3 linked regions of the Homo sapiens genome follow. The protein of the gene in region 3 interacts with the protein of the main gene of each other region in a biochemical or structural test. Each region holds a gene or a part of one and is shown on either strand. Other genes may lie near its edges. The genes, in order: GNAZ, BRAF and RAP1GAP.

Region 1 (7,000 bases), on a different chromosome or scaffold from region 3:
TGGATTTCCCCGCAGCACCACGTGCAGCCCCCAGCTCCTTGGTCTCAGCCCAAGCCCCCCTCTACCTCCTTCTGCAGGAGTGAGGCAGCCCCTGCCCACTGTGCTTAGGCACCTCACGGTGCTCCCACAGCCTGAAGCCTCCACCTTGCTCTGGTCCCTGCCTATCTGCTGGCTCCTGGGCTGGCCCATCAGAGTGCCCTCAAGGGAAAGCAGGGGCCAGGTCTCCCTCCTGGTGCTTTTCCTCCCTGTGATCAGAAGTGACCCAGCTCCTGCGGGGGTAATGAGAGTCAGGGAGGCGCTCAGTTATCCCAGGGCTGGGCCGAGGCCTGGCCACCCGTGTAAAACAGGGCAAGGCTGAGCTCTATCAGTGCTGTCTGGGAGAAGGGCCCCAGGGGGCATCACAACAGGGTGACCTTATTGAATCCTAACTGGATGCGGTAGAAGTGAGTCCAGCATGGGGGCTGGGTGGGCAGAGGCCTCGCACACACCCTCCTCTCCCTCATGCACCTGGCTTCAGGTGGACTGTCCAGGCAACAGCAGACATATGTGTTACACCATGGTGTGGGCCCTACAGCGCCCCATGGAGGAGAGGGGGTTGGATGGATTGTTGCCGGCTCATTTTCCAAGGCCAGTCTCTGCTGCTTTGCTTTCAGAAGAGCTCCCTTTCACTGTCCAGCCTGAGGTGGGGCTGCGGGGAGGAGGCTCACGCTTTTCTCTGTGTTTGGCAGGTGAAGGGCTGGATGCACAGTGGGAGCCGGAGGCGGGGGGCTGCAGGGAGCACACCAGCGACCGGCCCTCCAACCCTCCAGCCACTCAGCAACATCGCCACAGCAACCAGCAACCAGACGGCAGCAGCCGAGGCAAACACAAGCGGACGGCTTCCCACCGTCGCCGAGGACAGGGAATGACTACGGCAAATCAGGCCACTTTGCCAACTAGGGAGGTGGAGTGTCACTAGTGGGGAGGGGCGGCCACCGCCCGCTGCACAGAGCGCCATGCCGGCTGGAGAAGAGGCGCTGGGGCAGGGGCTGCAGTGTGGCTCGGCCTCACCCCCCTGCTGGCACTGAGTGCCTCCAGGGCAGCTGGGCTCTTGTCTGCCTGGTCTCAGTGTCCCCTGTGGCAAGAGGGAGAGGTGCCCCATCCCGTGCTCCTTGTCTGGGCCCGCTGCTGCCAGACCATGGGATGTCGGCAAAGCTCAGAGGAAAAAGAAGCAGCCCGGCGGTCCCGGAGAATTGACCGCCACCTGCGCTCAGAGAGCCAGCGGCAACGCCGCGAAATCAAGCTGCTCCTGCTGGGCACCAGCAACTCAGGCAAGAGCACCATCGTCAAACAGATGAAGATCATCCACAGCGGCGGCTTCAACCTGGAGGCCTGCAAGGAGTACAAGCCCCTCATCATCTACAATGCCATCGACTCGCTGACCCGCATCATCCGGGCCCTGGCCGCCCTCAGGATCGACTTCCACAACCCCGACCGCGCCTACGACGCTGTGCAGCTCTTTGCGCTGACGGGCCCCGCTGAGAGCAAGGGCGAGATCACACCCGAGCTGCTGGGTGTCATGCGACGGCTCTGGGCCGACCCAGGGGCACAGGCCTGCTTCAGCCGCTCCAGCGAGTACCACCTGGAGGACAACGCGGCCTACTACCTGAACGACCTGGAGCGCATCGCCGCAGCTGACTATATCCCCACTGTCGAGGACATCCTGCGCTCCCGGGACATGACCACGGGCATTGTGGAGAACAAGTTCACCTTCAAGGAGCTCACCTTCAAGATGGTGGACGTGGGGGGGCAGAGGTCAGAGCGCAAAAAGTGGATCCACTGCTTCGAGGGCGTCACAGCCATCATCTTCTGTGTGGAGCTCAGCGGCTACGACCTGAAACTCTACGAGGATAACCAGACAGTAAGTGGGGCCGGGGGTTTTCCTCTGCTTGTTCCTGCTGTCGTGGGTTCCTGGAAGCAAGAGGACTCGTGAGGTCCAGGACAGTCTGCAGCCAGAAAGGGAACCAGGCGCAGGCCTGGCCCTGCTGCACGATAACTGAGGCAGCTCCAGCAAGGTGGGGGCAGAGGGAACAGGGTGTGGAGTGCAGGTGTCATGTCCCATGCCTGAAGTACTCAGGGTGTGGAGGCCACAGGGCAAGAGAGTGTGAGGCTCCGCCGGGCATCCATGATCAATCCATGTGATAGTTTGGCAAATCCATGAAGCTCCTGCCAGCACCAGTCTCCTACCAGCATATAGGTCCAGGAACAGCAGCCACCCCTGCAACCCCATCTTGAGTCTGCAAATCTGGCAGAGATGGGGTTAAGAGCTGTTTAGAAGGGATAATCCCAGGTCCTGGTGGAAAGGGGACGACGTAAAAGCAGGTGTTGGGATTCTTTCACAGTGGCATGGGCGCAGCCCGAGGGAGACCTGGACCCAGTGTGAAGCGGTGGGGGCTTGAGAGTGGAGTTGCTGGAGAGGGTGGGGAGCCGGGTGAAGCAGCAGGGCAGTGTGCTGAGGCCCAGCCAGGACAGAAGGTCTAGCACACGAAGGGGGCCACAGCCAGGAGTGGCAGCGGTGGAGGCCGTGGCAGGCAAGGGAGGGGCTGTCTTGCCCAGCAGGATTCCCTGAGCACAGATTTCAAGTCTGCCCTTAAGAGAGAGGCCTTTGACCCTGGGGATGGGGGAGTGGGGGCAAACAAGGAGTCACGAAGTTGTGGGTACCCTGGGGCTAGGGGAGGGTGATGCTGGGAGACAAGGGCTCAGCCTCTCCACTTGGGAGCACTGGCCTCCGAGGTCACTCCTTGCTTCACCCAGTCCTAAGGCAAGCTTTATTCTTTAGGTTCAGCGGAGAGCAACAATGGTTCTAGCTTTGGACCTGTGCCCCAGCCAGGGAACCTGGACAGCTCTAGGCAGTGGCCATGGTGCTAGGAGCCTGAGTGTTCTGAGAGAGAGGATCTTTGGCTTTCCTCAGGCAGCTGGGGAGGCGGGCTTGCCTCCCTCCCCTCCTCGCATCAGGGGTCTCCCTGGAACTGTGCCTAGGTGTTGATGGTGTGCCTGGGGGAAACGAATGACGGACGGGCAGGCAGGTGTGTACGCAGGCGGCTGCGTCCACCCTGTTCCCAGTGTGTATCTGTGTGCTCTCCAGGGTTCTGGCCCCTTACCCTGTGGTTGCCACAAGTTCAGCCCCATGTGTGGTTCTGGGCAGAGGGGACATCTCAGCAGATGAGTGAGGTCAGGCTCCCTTGATGAGGCATGGCCGTGGGCAGAGCGCTTGGGGCTGAGAAGCTGCAAGGCAAAGTGAGGTGCTCAGGCCAGACCCTTGGGACAGTGCCATGGTGGGTCTGCCAGTCACACGGGCTTGCGCCACTGGCCTCACCCATCACCACAGTGGCAGGCGTGGCAAATTCCCCGGGCACCAGGCCTGGCTCCCAGTTGCATCCTTTGACAGGCCGTGCCCACAGGTGTGCTGGACACAGGAGGCAGGATACCTGGGTCCTGAGTCAGTCCAGTTTTTCATGGAGGGCTTTGGCTGTCATGTTTGCTTTCTGAACTTGTCAGTGAGGAGATGACCCAGGTGTCTTCACAGATGGGCCCAAGGCTAGGCCTTTGCCTGCCTGCAGCCCTCTTGGCTCTTACTGGCCTGTGCCTGCCACCTTGCTGCCTCTCTCTCCTCTCCTTCTGCTCTAGCCGTGGTCAGCTTGTTTTGCTCCAGCAGTACTGCTCTGTCCAGCCTTAAGCTTGTAATGATCCTGATCCCTGCCTCTCGTACCCCTGCCCTTATCCTCCAGGTCTCATCCCAAGTGGCGCCTCCTGGGAGGCCTTTTCTGACCTAGCCCGGCACCTGCTTACTCCTCCATCTAGTGATGTGTGAGTGAGCTCCTCGGGGCAGGCCCTAGATGGGCTGGGTGGCCCCTGTGGGGCCTCACATCTCTAGCTTTCCCTCTCCCAGGCCTGTCCCTGGGGAGAGCCATGGTGGGCAGCCATGGGCAGGGACAGCAGCCACTGGCCTGGTCTCAGGGATCCCTGTGAGGTTCCAGGCATTCAAGGCACTTTCTAAAGGGAGGGGCTGGCAGCCAGGCTGGCACACCCACCACCATCACCCTGGTTTCTGCAGGCCTGGGGAAGTGGTTGTTCACCAGAAAAGGAAATTCTTGATGAGAAACCCAAGCGAGGCTGGAAATTCACTGGATTCCAAATGATTCTGACCTTTCATGCTCTACCAGTAATATCTGGAGATGGAAAACAAACAGGCTGCAGAGGAAAGACAATCCCCTCCCGCGATTCCTCCCGCAGGCTGGGCTGGCCCCGGAGGTGAGCTGGCCCCCAGAGTGGTGCCGGCAGTGAGGACAGCCCGTCTCCAGCCGGGCCAGGGCCAGAGCCAGTGCTGGCACGGGCTGGCACAGGGCTGCCACTCTGCTCTCTCCTTTTGGAACGTGCTGAACTGTCCTCCCTGGGCCCTGTCAAAGGCAAGGCAGCCAAGAACAGGCCATGCTCGTTTTCACAAAAGCCGAATGAACCTTGGGGCCCAGTGCCAGGGCTCTGGACACGGCTCCTCCATAGCCCTCCTTCCGTGCTCAGCTTCCAAGGCCTCATCTTCCCTGATGCTGGCAGTGCCTCCCCACCCCCACGCCTGGCGAAGGAGCCACAGCCCCCCGGCCCACCCGCTGGCTTCTGCGTCAGCACGTTGCCAAGGAGAACGTCAGTGTCTCTGGGCTCCCGGGTGTGAGGGCTGCAGTGAGTGCAGGGCAGCACCTCAGAGCAGGGAAGGCAGATTTCCGGGTGTCTGTGGAGCATGGCAGCGAGCCACATGGGGAGCCACGCCCCTCCATGGCCACGGTTCCCACCCTCGTCCGAAGGAATTGGCAGTCCCTTGCCCTGACTAGGGCCAAGTCCTGCAGGTGTGTCAGGCACCCCAGTGCCCCCAAGCCCAACACCCAGCTGGGGCTTCCTCAGGCAGCACAGGAGGCCTGAACACAGCCCAGCAACACAAGGGGGTTTTTCTGGCGCACCTGTCCCCTGAATGATCCTGTGGGGCAGCAGCGCCTGTTATTTTTGTCACAGATCGAGGCACTGAGGCTCAGGCACACAGCTGGCGCTGGCGGGCCCCCAGCCCTCAAGTCCACAAGGACAGCTCCTGAGAGGCCATGTGTCACAGGACCCACCACGGGCCTCCCACTTAGCCAGAGCCATGGCAGAGGCTCTGCCCCTCGTCTTTAGTACATTCACACAAGGGTCAGTCAGCAAAGACAGTCACTCTGCTGCCCTAGGAGGGAAAGGCAAAGTGGAGAAGCTGGCACCTACCAGCCCACACTGAGGGACAGACACAGGTGGCTGTGACCAGCAGAGCCTGGGTCTTCACTCGGCCCCACTGGAGGCACCTGAGGGGGTAGGTGGGCACTTGTTGCCCAACCTCTGCCCTTGCGGATCAGCTAATGGACTCTGCTGGCCACCAAATGGTGTGGGATCCTTCAGAAGGCAAGATTAAAAGGTCTAGTTGTAAAGCATCAAATGTTCTCATGTGGAAACCCACAGGGAGCTCACTGCCCATTTCCCGACGGAGCTGTCAGCATTCCCAGCCCTGTGGCGGGTCTGTTTTGCACCTGTGATGGACCTGCTGTGCAGGCTCAAGGCTCAGGCTGGGGCCAAGTATGAGGGTGAGCACAACTCTCCCAGCAGCACAGGGAACTGGGGGACAAGGAGGAGGCAGTCACACCAGCCCAGCTACAGCTTCATTTCCACAAAGCCTCTGCTACCAGGGATACCTGCCCTGTCTTTCTAGAGCTGGCAGGCAGCAGTTCCCAGCAGTGTCCCCATTGTGCTTTCATCTAGGACCCACAGTAGTCACTTGGGCCCCACAGGCAGGCTGGGTCACAGCAGGGTTCACCGTGGGAGGCCTGGTGTCTCTGCCACTTATCTGAGAGACAGCTGGTCAACATGTTATCAGTGAGGGTATCCAGGGGACGGGGGACATAAGAACATGCCTTTTGTGGGGCAAGTTCTGCAGGTGGCAAGTGCTTGAGCAGCCAGCCTCCAGGCAGGTGGTCTATGCCTGGCCCTGGATAGTGGTCCCTTGTCCTGGGGCCATTGGCTTCCTGAGGAACCCCTCCCCACTCCAGGGCAGGTCAGCAGCCTCAGCACACCACGAGGGCAGGTCCACACCCACCCGGCACAGCCTGTGCTCTGAGCAGAGGGCCTGGCACACAGTGGGTGCTCTGCAGACTTTGTGGAGCGGGCGGGAGGCGGTAGGCTTGGGAAGAGCTGGAGCTCCAGAGCCCTGGCTTCTGGGTGCAGAGCAGCTGGGACACTCAGCCCTTCCCAAGGAGACCCTATGGGTGCTCGTCCATAACAGGAGTGTATGCAGTACCCTGAGGAGGGGCTGCCCAAGGCCGTCCTGTGAACACAGCGTGTTCCTGCCACCCTAGCGCTGTGGTTTATCATTTAGCCCAAAAAGGGTGCTTGTTTTAGTGCTTTTAAAATGGAGTTTAAACATTTGTGCCATAAAATGGCGTGTTGTGGGTGAAACAAGGTGTTTCCAGTAAGACAGGCTTATACCTATTGATGACAGAGCTGGTTATATTTGCCCAAGGAGGGAATTACAAATGGGCAATAGCCAGACACAGATGATACCCTCTCCCCAGCATACCAGGGCTTAGATTGAGAAGGGACCTTATATATCCTTTAGTGTTCCTAACCAGCCGGCTTTGCAGATGAGGAAACTGAGCCTCAGAGAGGTTCCTTCACATACCGCAGGGCTGAGACTCTGGCTCTCAGGGAGGGTCCTGGCACTGGCCCCTGGGAATTCCAGTGGCCCCCCTCTTCACCATACTGGTCCCACATCCTGTGGGTGCTGGGGTTCTCCAGCAAGGGCCTTGGGGGTATAGACTGGGTTCCACCCTTGGAGCTGCTGTGTAGCCAGCCTTCCCTCAGGAGAGTGGAGGACAGTGACACCTGGGCTTGGGAGAGGTGAGTGGCTGTGAAGGTTGACACTCCCCTCGTCCCCTTGTCTCCTGGCCTAGTCAGT
Region 2 (7,159 bases), on a different chromosome or scaffold from region 3:
ACGAGGATACCTGTCTCCAGATCTCAGTAAGGTACGGAGTAACTGTCCAAAAGCCATGAAGAGATTAATGGCAGAGTGCCTCAAAAAGAAAAGAGATGAGAGACCACTCTTTCCCCAAGTAAGTAAAAGCTTCATGCTATCCAAAAGAACAGACTAACATTCATAGACAGATTTCTGAGCACTTTTTTGGGCACACAGTGTGTATTTCATGAGTTTGGATTCTATGTGCAGACTCCAGACAAGAAAACACATTAAGATGGCTTCATGAGGGTTGAGCAGTGGCACACCTAGAAATTTTGGGTCCTAATACAAAATATTCAGAAAGACTTTGCATTTGTCCATCAGTTCTCAGACTTCTCAGTCTTTGAACTCTTTTACACATTTAAAAATTATCGAAGACCCCCCCCCCCACAAAGAGCTTTTGTTTATATAAGTTTTAATTCCTTATTAGAAATTAAAACTATTTTTTAAAATATTAATGAATTAAACATAGTAAACCAATATGTTAAATAATATTTAGAAAAAAACAGTTCTATTATCTAAGAGAAAAAAATTAGTGAGGAGTTGTATTGTTTTACTTTTTTTGCAAATCCCTTTGCAAAAAGAAGACAGCTGGATTCTCCGCTTTTGCACTCACATTGCAATATCTCACATCATGTCACCCCTAAAAACTCTACTTAACGCTTGTAAAATAATGACAGTAAAAAAGGCAAATGATATCTTATTGTTATTACAAAAATAGTTTTGACCTCGTGGATCCCCTGGTGGTCCACGGACCACATTTTGTGAACCACTGCTTTATTTCTTCTTGGTGGTAAACAGATTCAAGCTTTCCTTTAATACTGGGTCTTTTTGAGGGGCATTTCTGCCTGATGCAGAAAAAGGAAAAGGCAGTAAGGCATTTGTCAGCTCAGCCTGCCTTTACCTAATTCTTGATAACTCACTGCTTTTTTTTTTTTTTTTCCATATTGGAAGGATAAAGCCTTAAGTTAACAAATTTCAAAAAGAACTGTAACTAAGGCCAGGTGTCGTGGCTTACAAATCTCAACACTTTGGGAGGCCAAGGCAGGCAGATCAGTTGAGGTCAGGAGTTCGAGACCAGCCTGGCCAACATGGTGAAAACCGTCTCTACTAAAAATACAAAAATTAGCTGGGCATAGTGGCAGGAGCCTGTAATCCCAGCCACTCAGGAGGCTGAGACATGAGAATCGCTTGAACCCAGGAGGTGGAGATTGTAATGAGCTGAGATGACACCACTGCATTCCAGCCAGGGCAACAGAATGAGACTCTGTTTAAAACAAAACAAAACAAAAATATCTAAATACCTCAACTAGCTTACAGAGTTTAGCTGTAGTAGATATTATAATATAAATGCAATGTTTTCTGATACTTAGGGAGCTCCTGATAGCACTGGATAAATATGCCTTGATGAATCAGTACAGTTTCAAGTGGGAAGTGCTATTTCCCATAGTAACCCTGCTACCATAATTACTGGAGTGTTCATGTATGAACTCTTAGGCCTTTGAATGCCCAGTCCTAGCTGAGTAACTCAGACAGAAGTCAATGTTACAGGAATTAGATTCACTCATCCTTTATTTTTAAATCTAAAAAATGTTATTCTTCTCTAAAGAATGAAAGAAGATAAAATTGATGGTTTTAACAAGTCTGTCAGGGTGTTGCCTAAGAAAAGAAAGGGAAAGCTAAGTGGTTGGCTGGGTAGATATAAGTTTCATTTATCAGGTTTCAAAGTTACTGTTCCTTTGAGGAAGAGTTTTTATTTTTTCTTTTTATTTTTTTATTTGTTTCTCTAAGTCAGGAAACCTCTGGGTTGAGACTGTCCTGGTGAGAGACAAGTGCTGCTGAGCAGCTTCAGCATGACCCTGTCCCATGTTCTCTTTTCACGTCATGGTGCTCGGGTTCTTACTTAGAATGTTTATTGACATTAATAATGCAAAGTACATCCTTAGGCCCACTTTTTAAATGATATTAAAAGGGGCAAAATGCTTAGCTCCATACTTCTAAATATAACATTTCATTAATTACATGGTTTCAAAAACTGAAGTGCATATGTGAACTTTCCAGATTATTGGAGGCTATCCCTTTAAAGTGTTATTTTGAAATTTTTGTTACAGGATATCTTTTCACACCATACTGTTATATGCCACATAAATTTTAGATGGCTGAAGATCTATATGTTTTATAAAATATGAAATCATTTTTATAGTTTTGAGGTAGGAAAGGCTTTCTTAATAGACAAAATTCAGAAGGAAAAAATTAGCAGATGTGAGTACATTAAAAATTTTTAAACTTCTATATAGAAAAATAACATTGAAAGATAAAAAGAATAATTGTAGCATATATAACAAAAAGTAAATGTTTATAATATACAAAGGACTCCTCCAAATCAATAAGTAACAAACAATAGAAAATGGGCAAAGGGAATATGAACAGGTGATTCACATAATAAATACAAATGGTGAATGAACTTAGGAAAAGGTGTAAATATTTCCATGGCAGTCAGTAAAATGCAAAGACACAACAGTGAAATATATTTTAATTTCGCCTCTCAGGTTGGTAATATCCAGCACTGGGAACAATGTTGGGAAGTGAGGAGGAGCATTCTATGTAAAATTTTAAAGGTTTGGTGGAAGGCAGCATTTTGGAAGACCTTGGTAGAATCCATAAATTCAAAATACTTCTAAAAATCTGTGCTATGTAACCTATTTCATAAGTATTCAGATATATATAAGAATGTTTACTATAATAAGAAAAAGACATTAAGATTAAGTTAGTTTTGTATTGATGACATGGATATTGGTGAGAGAAAAAGAAAACAAGACAGAAAACAAAATGTAGTATGATACCTCATTTTTTTTTTTTATAGGCTGGGCCTGTTCTGTTGCCCAGGCTGGAGTGCAGTAATATGATCATAGCCCACTGCAGCCTCAAACTCCTGGGCTCAAGCGATCCTCTCACCTCAGCCTCCTAAGTAGCTGGGATTGCAGGTGCCTATCACCACACCCAGCTAATTTCTTGTGGTGGTGGTGGTGGTGGTTGTAGAGATAGATTCTCACTATGTTGCCCTGGCTGGTCTTGAACTCCTGGCCTCAAGCGATCCTCTCGCCTCAGCCTCCCAAAGTGCTGGGATTACAGGCGTGAGCCCCAGTGCCCAGCCTGATAACCACTTTAAAAGGTTAAACAGAGGCCAGGCACGGTGGCTCACGCCTGTAATCCCAGCACTTTGGGAGGCCGAGGCAGGCGGATCACCTGAGGTTGGGAGTTCGAAACCAGCCTGACCAACATGGAGAAACTCTGACTCTACTAAGAATACAAAATTAGCCAGGCGTGGTGGCACATGCCTGTAATCCCAGCTACTCGGGAGGCTGAGGCAGGAAAATCATTTGAACCCAGGAGGCGGAGGTTGCGGTGAGCCGAGATCGCACCATTGCACTCCAGCCTGGGCAACAAGAGTGAAATTCCATCTCCAAAAAAAAAAAGTGGTGTTCAGGTGGGCCTTGTTTTCATGTATGTATTTTTATACATAAAAAAAGGTACTGAAGAGGCCAGGCGCAGTGACTCACACCTGTAATCCCAGCACTTTGGGAGGCCAAGGTGGGTGGATCAGTTGAGGTTAGGAGTTCGAGACCAGCCTGGGCAAAATGGTGATACCCGTCTCTACTAAAAATACAAAATTATCCGGGCGTGGTGGCACACGCCTGTGATCCCAGCTACTCGGGAGGCTGAGGCAGGAGAATCGCTTGAACCTGGGAGGCGGAGGTTGCAGTGAGCTGAGATCGCGCCACTGCACTCCAGCCTGGACAATAGAGTGAGACTCCATCTCAAAAAAAAAAAAAAAAGGTACAGAAGAAAGTATAGACTCTAACAGTGGTTATCCCTGGAGAGCAGGATTTGAGAGCCTTATACTCTTTATACATTTCTATAGTATTTTAATTTTTATTTGCATGTTATACTTGGAATTTACAATTTTTTGCAACTGCTTACTTCTTTGTCTTATACTAATCATCATAAAGATTACTTTTTAAAAAAAATTTAACTTTTAAAAACAATTTTCAGCCAGGCATGGTGGCTCATGTCTGTAATCCCAGCCCTTTGGGAGGCCGAGGCAGGCAGATCACCTGAGGTCAGGAGTTTGAGACCAGCCTGGCCAACGTGGTGAAACCCTGTCTCTGCTAAAAATACAAAAATTTAGCTGGGCATGGTGGTGCGCTCCTGTAATCCCAGCTACTCAGGAGGCTGAGGCAGGAGAATCGCTTGAACCCAGGAGGGGGAGGTTGCAGTGAGCTGAGATTGTGCCACTGCACTCCAGCCTGGTTGACAACAGCGAGACTCCGTTTCAAAAAAAAAAAAAAATTGGTATCTCAGGACAATAACAAAAGTAATAATAATAGCTGCTAAGGTTTTATTGAGTGCTTATTATAGGCCAGGCATTATGCCAAGCCCTTTAAACATGTTTCATGATTATGAACATGCATTATCATGCTGTATGCCTTCAAGGATTATAACCTGTTTCTTTGTGCCTTAAAATTGTGAATTTCTGCATTTTATATATTGGGGTCTATTTGTCGAGTTCTCCTATCTTTGCTCTTGGGTTGTCCCCTGTCACTTCTCATGTGCTACTAGCACTCTGGGTCTGTGAGGTTCTGCTTTCAATTAGGTGTATGTAAAACATTTCCCATGGCTAGGTTTCTTTAAAGGGCAAGTAGCTGTGATAATTCTGTTTAGAGATAGTCATAAAGTGCTTTACTTATTTATACTCCATCTTCTTCCCAAAAGAGACTTGTGGTCTATAACAAAAAGGTATAAAATTGGTTTTAAATTTCTATTATTTACTGTTTCAAGACTAACAAATGATCTAAAATATAAATAAAAGCTGACTAAGAATTACTCTCCCCATTTAATTTACAGAGAGAGTTTCTTCTTAAGAAAAAATACCAATTATTTACAAATATTTTCCCAAGCATTTATGACAATGCTGAAAACAATGTAAGATTTCAGGTGCTTTCTTGTAAAGTGTGATGGGACTCTTAAAGATTTATACCACCCAGATTTTCATTCTTCTTTCTGTTTTTTCTTTTTCTTTCTTTCTTTTTTTTTCTTTTTTCTTTTTTTTTCTTTTTTTTTTCTTTTTTTTTTTGTAGATTCTCGCCTCTATTGAGCTGCTGGCCCGCTCATTGCCAAAAATTCACCGCAGTGCATCAGAACCCTCCTTGAATCGGGCTGGTTTCCAAACAGAGGATTTTAGTCTATATGCTTGTGCTTCTCCAAAAACACCCATCCAGGCAGGGGGATATGGTGCGTTTCCTGTCCACTGAAACAAATGAGTGAGAGAGTTCAGGAGAGTAGCAACAAAAGGAAAATAAATGAACATATGTTTGCTTATATGTTAAATTGAATAAAATACTCTCTTTTTTTTTAAGGTGAACCAAAGAACACTTGTGTGGTTAAAGACTAGATATAATTTTTCCCCAAACTAAAATTTATACTTAACATTGGATTTTTAACATCCAAGGGTTAAAATACATAGACATTGCTAAAAATTGGCAGAGCCTCTTCTAGAGGCTTTACTTTCTGTTCCGGGTTTGTATCATTCACTTGGTTATTTTAAGTAGTAAACTTCAGTTTCTCATGCAACTTTTGTTGCCAGCTATCACATGTCCACTAGGGACTCCAGAAGAAGACCCTACCTATGCCTGTGTTTGCAGGTGAGAAGTTGGCAGTCGGTTAGCCTGGGTTAGATAAGGCAAACTGAACAGATCTAATTTAGGAAGTCAGTAGAATTTAATAATTCTATTATTATTCTTAATAATTTTTCTATAACTATTTCTTTTTATAACAATTTGGAAAATGTGGATGTCTTTTATTTCCTTGAAGCAATAAACTAAGTTTCTTTTTATAAATTTTGAGTGCAGGTGACCAAAAATATTGCTGAGGAGTGGCACGTTTGACATGAGTAAAATGTCTTAACTTCGGATTTTTAGCGGGAAAATGTTATAAATTGGAGTTTCTTTTAAATAGCTTTTTTTAAAATACATTAAGGATGTCTCGCTCATGTAGAAGTCAAATTTTGTTGCAAACGCATTGCTCCCTTCACACCCAATCTCTCCCCTGCAAAAAATCTTCACAGAATTCTGTGAGAACTTTTAGGTGTGTTTTTCTTTGAGATACCTCTGGTTGCCAAACACCAGGTAATAGATTTTTTAAAGTTGTTATTAGATTATTCTTACCTCTCATGATGCATATTTTAGCAATCACCTTATCATTGTGTCTCATGTTCTGTCCTCCTTATATTCTTTGCCCAGCAAGATTCTACTTATGATGAATGAATGCTCTTCTCCTTTTTTCATTCAATGGTATGAAGTATTTGTTAGGGTTCTTTAGTACTTACACTTTGTTGTGTAGAAAATGACTGTAATGTGGTGGTCAGTGTATTCTTACTGTGATTCAGAGGGAATCAAAAGTAGAAAGCAACAGCACGTGGTCCTATCAAAGATTTGGCCATCTCTGCTTCACTGTCAGCCTCTTAACTATATCTTCACTTACTCAATTTGGTTTTGTCATGATTTTTAAATGTAGCCAATAGATCAAGGTTCTTCCAGTAAACACATATCTGCATAAATGCCTCCTTGAAGTCAATAAAGAAGGAAATTGAGAAGACTTTAAATTAATGATAATTTAGTTTTTAAGTACCCACAAATAAATTTTTGAAACATTTTCTTTATTTGAATACTTAGATGTCATCCAGGAAAATCACTCAATAATAATTACGGCAAATCTTTAACCCCTCATTTGGGTAGCTTAAGATAAGTAATGCCATTATGAATCAGAATTGATTCATGACTTTAGTTAAGAAAATGAAAAGGAACATTTCACGTATTTTTAAAAATGATACTAAGGAATAAAGAAGTACAACTATTGGAAAATATCTAAGTATATGATTTTTAAATCCTCCAGTGGCATTAAATATATGATTATTAGTAATTGTTAGATAGGGTTTTATTCATTCACAAATAGAAGACTAGCAAGCATGTAACTAACAAAGTTTTTACAAAATTGACTTTGTGGAATGCTCCAAATGTTTGGCCATTTTGAGGCACAAGGTCAGGGGTCTCTTTATTGATAGAGCTCCTTCTATAATTTC
Region 3 (7,159 bases):
GGGCTCTGTGGGATCTGCAGCCTAAGGGCAGTGGTCAGAGGGCAGTGTAGCAACCCAAGTCCCACCCCGTGCCAGCTAGGGCCCCTCCCCGGAACCTCCAAATTGGCTGGGGGAGGTTCTGGCCCAGCAGCTGGAAGACTCCCCCAGCTTCCCACACACTGTGCTGGGATGCCCCAGGCCCCAGAAGCCCGCCCCCAGCTTCTCTGGAGGCAGGAAGGGGTAGGACCCCAGGTCACTTCGTGGCGGGGAGGAGGAGTCAGGGCAGAGGAGAGGGATGGCGCTCCATGCAGACCGGCGATATTGGGGGACGTGCGGCTGGGTGTAGGGCCTTTGGGTACCGGATCCTGGCAGGGACTGGGCCAGGGTCCCAGGGGCCAAGGCAGGGCCAGAAGCCCCTGGTGAGGGGCACTGGCTCTGGCACAGGTACCAGGCCCCAAAGCAGGTGCTGAGTGCCATCGGAGCTGCCGCCACTCCATCCCGCACGCCCTGGGGCCTGTCCCGGGGGCAGAGGGGCAACGTCCCCAATATGGCCTCCGTCCTGAGAGCGAGCAGAGAACAGCGCGTGCAGGCAGCCTCCAGAGCCGGCGGCCCCGCGGACGACAACCTCTTCCACGGTTCCTATGCCTATGGCACTGCCCCGGCGTCCGAATCTACTCGCACTTTTCCCAGGAATAAGCAATGACTGGCAAGCAGCAGAGGGCGGGGGCAGAGAGAGAGAGACAGAGAGAGAGTCAGAGAGCAAGAGAGATGGTGGGAGGGAGACACAGAGAGGAGGAGAGGCAGGGAAAGGAGGAAGACAGACAGAAAAAGGAAGAGAACGGTGCAGGAGGCAATGGGAGAGATAGGGCCGGGGAAAGGAAGGCGAGAAGCACAAGGAGAGACAGAGGACAAGGGAGACGGGGGAGAGATGGACAGACAGTTACCCGGAGACAGGGACACGCGTGAGCCAGCGAGGGCACACCAGATGGGCACAGAGGGAAATCCAGAGAGACAGGGACGCAAGGACACAGACACAGGCCCAGGGAGGGTCAGAGACAGAGAAGGAAGCCAGGGGAAGGCCGAAAGGAAAAAGCGAGGGTGAGAAGAGCGGAGAAGGGAAGGAGGAGAGGGAGCAAAAAAGACAGGTGCAAGAAGGAAGGAGAAACAGAGAGCCAAAGGGCAGAGAGGCCACAGGACGGGGAAAGGGAAGGGAGGAGGGAACAAAAAAACAAGGAGAGAGAGTAGAATGAAAGGAGGAAACACAGAGAGAGGGAGAGTTGTGCAAAAACAAAACAGAAATGGGTCCGGTTACTGCCATGGTGGGTGCTGCTGGCCTGGTCCTGTCCCTGGGGCCCCTCTCGGCCACCCACAGGAGGCTGGGTCACTCTGGTGGAGAGGAAGGGAGTGGTTGATAAAACTGGGTTGGGGGAGGTTGGGCCTGCTCCTCGCATGACAGTGTGCTTGGTGACTGCTGGACAGCAGAGGTCGGGGAATTCCCTCCTGCCACGTGACATAGCCTCACAGCACTGAGCGCAGGGCTTGGCATGCAGTAGACAGTCAATAAAGGATGGATGGATGGATGGATGGATCGGTGGGTGGGTGGATGGATGGATGGAGATAGAGGGATGGATAGAGATGGATGGATGGATGGATGGATGGATGGATGGATGGATGGATGGGTGGATGGGTGGGTGGATGGATGGATTGATGGGTGGATGGGTGGGTGGATGGGTGGGTGGATGGATGAGTGGGTGGGTGGGTGGATGGGTAGATGGGTAGGTGGGTGGATGGGTGGGTGGGTGGATAGCTAGATGGGTGGATGGGTGGGTGGATGGATGGATGGGTGGGTGGATGGATGGGTGGCTGGATGGATGGGTGGGGAGCACAGCAGTGGGTGCAGTGTCCTGGGGTGGCCACTAGGCAGTGGACAGCAGTGAGGCCCACAGCCATAGGCCGTATTCATCCATGTGCCCAGCACTCCTGAGTGTGAGCAGCAGAATCCCAGAACCTGGACAACAGTCAGTGATCACACAGGAGGTGCTCCCTCTGGAGATGCTCACACAGAAGCCAGATTCCCGACACACAATAGGCAGCCACACCACAGAGGCCCTGGCTGCTGCGGACACACAGTAGGAGGTGCTCACAGAGAAAGTACCCACACAACAGCTCACTTCCTGACACACAGTAGGTGTTCACTGACATCTAGGGCTTATCACACACGATGTGCTCACATAGCAGTCCATTTTCTGACACACAGTAGGTTCTCACACAGCAGCCCAGGGCTGCGCACACAGTAGGCGCTCACAGAGTTGATGCCCACACAGCAGCCCAGGACCTGACACACAGTGGGTGCTCACAGGTACTCAGGGCCAGGCCCACAGTAGATGCTCACAGAGTGCATGTCCACACAGCAGCCCAGGGCCTGACACACAGTGGGTGCCCACAGCCCGACACACAGTAGGTGCTCCCAGAAACCCAAGGCTTGACAGTAGGTGCCCACACAGCAGCCCAGTCCCCAGCAAACAGATAGATACTCAATAAGGAATGAGACACAGAGGCTGTCCCAGGGCTGACCTGCAGGAAGTCACACCTCAATGCATAAAGGGCCAGGAGGAGGGGAGGGCCAAGGAGCTTGGGAAGGGGCTGCAGGCTGCAAGCTGTCAGCACCGCAGTGTCCTGGCCTGGGCACTTCACCCCCCTCCCATGGAAAGTAGTGGCTAGACCAAATCCAGAGCCTAGGATGGGCATGTGGGCAGCAGGGCAACAGAGAGAGTTGGAGTCAGGCCTCAGGAGGCAGAGGAGAGCTGAGGGCCCCCCAGGGAGGGGCCGGGGCCTGGGGAGGGGGAGGGCACTCACTATTCCAGCCGCCTTGGCCAGGTCGGGGTTGTTGGGCGCGAAGCTCCCGCTGTGGCTGGTGGACACGGTGTTGGGCTTCTTGTTGCTCAGCCCCATGGCATCCATGGACTGGCTGCGGCTCCGGATGACCCGCTGTGAAGGGGGTGGCAGTGGAGGAGGCACAGGATTCCTAAGGGCCGTCCCCTTGGGGAAACCCAGGAGCCCAGGCATCTGGTCTCTCCCCAGCAATGCCACTCTGGGTAAGCCCTGGAAATCCCTTCCCCTGGGCATGTGGCCAGCAGGGCAACAGAGGGAGGTGGGGCCAGGCCTCAATTTCCCTGTGCGTCACATGAGAAGCAGGTACATACGGGGCCTAAGGGTAGCTCAGGTATTGGCTCTGCCACCAACTTGCCGGGTGGCCTTGGGGACACCACTTCAGTTCTCTCACTCTCTGGGACACACAGGCTGCTCTGTGCTGAGTGTCCTCATGTGGCTGCGTAAGGACTGCAGAAGACACTGGGTCATGGCCAAAAGTGTGCACAGAGAGCCCTCTTGACACCTCAGTTTCATTCCTGTTAGGGCCTCTTAGAGCTCTCCTGCCTTCTTTCTTTTCTTCCCTCCCACCCTCTTTCCTTGTTTTTTTCAGACCAATCTACACCAAATGCTTGCTATGGGACCAGCGCTTTACAATCACTCTATCACTGGATCCCCCTGCAAGATGGGGACTAGCAATCATGCCCATTTCATGCCAACTGAGGCAGGGGTGAGCCCGGCATGCCAGGACCCATGCCCTCAACTCTGGACTCCGCTGCTTCTGAGAAATTCTTTGACCTAATCTAGGTCCACCGTCCAGCACCTACCAGATGTGGGACCATCGGAGCCCTCCTCAAAGGAGACACCCCAGATCCATATTGACCCCACCTGTCCTGTCTCCAGTCCCCAAGCCTCTTTCTCAAAGACGATCTGTTCACCTCAGTTCCTGGGCAGGCCTGGGCAGCCGGGCTAATTCCCTTATTCCAACCCATAGCTCCAGCTGTGTGACCTGTCCTGGGTTGAGGGTGAGGTGTGACCAGCCGGCCGGGAAGCTGGAGGATGGGCAGTTATCCTCCTGTGGGTGGAGGAGACGGTGGCAAAAAGGCTACCACCTGGGGCCCTGTGGCCTGAGTGAGTCCAGACCCTGTCCAGGAACTACTCCACTCCCCACACTTCTCATTTCAGACAACATTTGCTGAGGCAGACAGGCAAGGTTTTGCATTTTGCTTTTAAACTTGTATTGCACTAACCTAACTCTTTTACAGATAACAATAACTGTATGAGGCAAGTTGCCATTACCCTACTCAACAGATAAAGAAACTGATGCTCACAGAATGCCCAAGCTGGTAAGTAACAGAGCTGAAATTTGAAGTGTCCGTGCTCTTAATGCTAAGCTAAACCAGGGACAGGCAGGGTAGGTCACACAGGCCAAGTCCCTCTCCAATGATCATGGTTCACACACCTCTTCTGAGAACTCTATTTCTTTCCCTCAGTCAAGACAGAGCCTCTTCCTCTCTTCTCTTCCTGCTGACCTAGCAGCCTTTGTACCAGCAGCCCTTGCTGTCTCCCAGAATCCTCCACCCTTCAGCAGAATTCCCAGGTGAATTCCCCACCTAGGCCCCACCTCCAACAGTTACTCCTCCCCAAGCCAGGGCCCCACCTTACATGCTGCTCCTTCAAACTCTACCCAAGGCAGACTATGTCCCCAAGTGTAAGCCCATTCTAAAGCCCAAGTCCACTTCGAGCCCCGCCCTCATCCCAGACTAGAGCCTCCTCTAGCCACACCCCCACGCCATGTCCATTAGCCCCGGCCCCTGACTCCACCCCCAGCCACGTCCCATCCCAGACTCTACCCGCAGGCGAGCGGCCTCTAGCCACACCTCCACACCATGTCAATCAGCCCCAGTCCGGGACTTCGCCCCAGCCACGCCCCCTCTCAGACTCCAATGCGAACGGCCTCTAGCTGCACTCCCCATGCTGTGTCAATCCCCCAGTCCGGGACTCCACCCCCTCAGCCACGCCCCTTCTGCCAGACTCCACCCCCACGCCGTGTCCATCAGTCTATCAGCCTCAGCCCGGGATTCCGCCCTAGCCACGTCCCTGCTCCCCGGCCAGTTAGACCTGGGGCCCTTCACCTTGAAAGACTCAAAGAAGCCGCCGCCCCCACTGCCATTCTCCATCTTGTCCTCGTCGCCGCCCAAGCCCATCATGGACTGGCTGTGGATGTGTAGTTCCTCATAGAGCGTCTCCAGGAGGGCGGCCCGCGTCCGCTCCTGTGGGCCAGGCCCGGGCCGTCAGGAGGGACCCCAAGGATCAGCCCTTCGGCCCACAGTTCAAATCCTGGCCACCTTCTGAGGCACGGGCCACCTTCTCTGAATGAGTGGGGAGTGGGGAGGGCGGAGGGCTCCTGCACCGCCTTCCCCCAGGCCACTCCACAGCTCAAGCATCCCCCAGGGACCCTCATATGAAGGGCCCCTCAAAGCCCCTTCAAGATCTGGCTTCATGTCCCCACCCCCCAGGTCCACCCCCCCACCTGACAGGTCCCAAGGTGTCCCTGTCAGCCTAACCGCCTCCCAGCATCTCCTGGGAACTCCTCAGTATCCCTCCGGCTTCCTCTCCCCGACCTCCTACTCGTCCATCAATCCATCCAGCCCCAGGTGTCCCCGCTAAGGCCAAGGTCTGAACATGGCTTTTCCCTTCCCAGGGACAGGGCTGAAGTTATAGGTTGGAAGGTGAGAAGAGGGTCACCCAGCCCTCACAGCCCATCCTCACCTCCAGTTTGGCAAACTTCTCTGCCTTGTAGCAGGCATATTCAGCATTGATCAGCTTTGTCAGCAAAAATTCCTGGAACTCAGGCCCCTGGAAACTCCCAGTGTGGAGGAGATAAGGAAGGGAAGTTGAGATGACACATAAACAAGGGTCGGAACCCCAACGAGGCAGAGGCTGCAGCTCCTGAACCATGCTCTGCTGGGGCCTGGGGTCACCCTCTTCACTCCCAAAAGGGTATCTCCCTGGGCTCAGCTCCCCAGGTACCTTCAAGGGGCCCCAGTGCCCTTCATGGCTGCCCACGCCTTCGGGAGAGCAAACTCCACAGATGTTAGGGTCTGGGTTGGGGTCTCAACCTACTGCTTCAGTCTAGGGTAGCAGAACACGCTACGTACAGAGCTGAAGCCCAGGCTTGAAGTGTGCCCCTCCCCAAACATTTTAGAAGAAAGAAAGAGACTGGAACTGTCAGAAAGAGAACAGAAATGAGGAGAGGCCAGTCTACTATGGAAAGTGTAAAACAATCGTGTAGTTTATCCTGTGACCTTGTGAAAAAAAAAAAAAAGGTGTTTTCAAGATGAATGGAAAAGCCAGGCCCCGGTTGCAGTTAGGGGAGCCCAGCTGCCCTGGCATACAATGAGACTTTGGGACCTCATAAGGCAGAATGTGTATGCACCCCCCAGGCCCCCACCCATTTGTCCTGCTCTGCCCATGACTGGGGGGGTGCCCCTCACCTTCCTGAACACAGCGGGGTCCGGGAGGGGGGGTCCAAAGAAGGGCACATCATCTCTTGCAGTGACAGAGACCTGGAAGGGAGGGCAGCTGTCTGTTCCTGTGGAGCCTGGGGTCTGCTCTGCCCCACCCAGCCAGAAACCCCTACTGTGCCTCCCTGGACTGCCCCTTGGTCGGGGAGACCCAGTGACTGTGGGCTGGATGAATCTTTCTTCCAGAGATTTCTGCCCTCTATCTTTTGCCCTGAATTTTAGTGGTGGAGATGGGTAGGGGCCTTAGGAATCATCGGGATGGTGAAGGCAGAGGAGGCTACGGGAGGTGGAGGACAGTGATACCAGGCCAGGAGGCAGAGGAGGGAAACTGTCCTCTCTGAGGGGGTGAGCTTTGGGGACGACAGGGGGCGTGGTGTGAACAGTGCACCATTGAAGCCTTCCATGGTCCCCCCATTATAGCTGGAAAAAGTGAGGCTCAGAGGGGCATCCCAGGGAGGGCAGAGCTGCAGCCAGGGCCCTTGCTGATGCCCCTGGGAGGCTCCAAGAGCGCCCACCTTGTAGAGGGGGCCATCAGGGCCCCCGCCCTCAGCCTGCACCACGACGTAGGCATGCAGGAAGTTGGACGCGATCATGTCGGGCACGAAAGGAGTGTTCTCATCCTGGAAGACCACAGCCACGATGTCGTTCCCGATGTGCCGCTTCCGCTGCAACTGAGCACAAAGCCACGGGCCTTCGTGGTCTGGCCAGAGGGGGCCCATGGGGGAGAGGGGTGCCCACGGGGGTTTAGGAGGGTTTGGGGTAGTCAGAGGGCACATCTAAGGATT

The links.
Region 1: the proteins of RAP1GAP (region 3) and GNAZ form a complex in vitro, tested with the Homo sapiens proteins (one study listed by BioGRID).
Region 2: the proteins of RAP1GAP (region 3) and BRAF form a complex in vitro, tested with the Homo sapiens proteins (one study listed by BioGRID).

Annotation. Positions count from the first base shown.
Region 1 is NC_000022.11:23,094,519-23,101,518, forward strand, and holds part of GNAZ (guanine nucleotide-binding protein G(z) subunit alpha), read left to right. Parts: intron 1-728; 5' UTR 729-1,177; coding exon 1,178-1,900; intron 1,901-4,093; coding exon of another isoform or gene 4,094-4,294; exon of another isoform or gene 4,295-7,000. UniProt on the Homo sapiens protein: Guanine nucleotide-binding proteins (G proteins) are involved as modulators or transducers in various transmembrane signaling systems.
Region 2 is NC_000007.14:140,732,771-140,739,929, reverse strand, and holds part of BRAF (serine/threonine-protein kinase B-raf), read left to right. Parts: coding exon 1-118; intron 119-5,159; coding exon 5,160-5,333; 3' UTR 5,334-7,159. UniProt on the Homo sapiens protein: Protein kinase involved in the transduction of mitogenic signals from the cell membrane to the nucleus. Phosphorylates MAP2K1, and thereby activates the MAP kinase signal transduction pathway. Phosphorylates PFKFB2.
Region 3 is NC_000001.11:21,603,231-21,610,389, forward strand, and holds part of RAP1GAP (rap1 GTPase-activating protein 1), read right to left. Parts: intron 7,046-7,159; coding exon 6,890-7,045; intron 6,417-6,889; coding exon 6,345-6,416; intron 6,076-6,344; exon of another isoform or gene 5,881-6,075; intron 5,707-5,880; coding exon 5,620-5,706; intron 5,121-5,619; coding exon 4,983-5,120; intron 2,968-4,982; coding exon 2,836-2,967; intron 683-2,835; coding exon of another isoform or gene 428-682; intron 1-427. UniProt on the Homo sapiens protein: GTPase activator for the nuclear Ras-related regulatory protein RAP-1A (KREV-1), converting it to the putatively inactive GDP-bound state.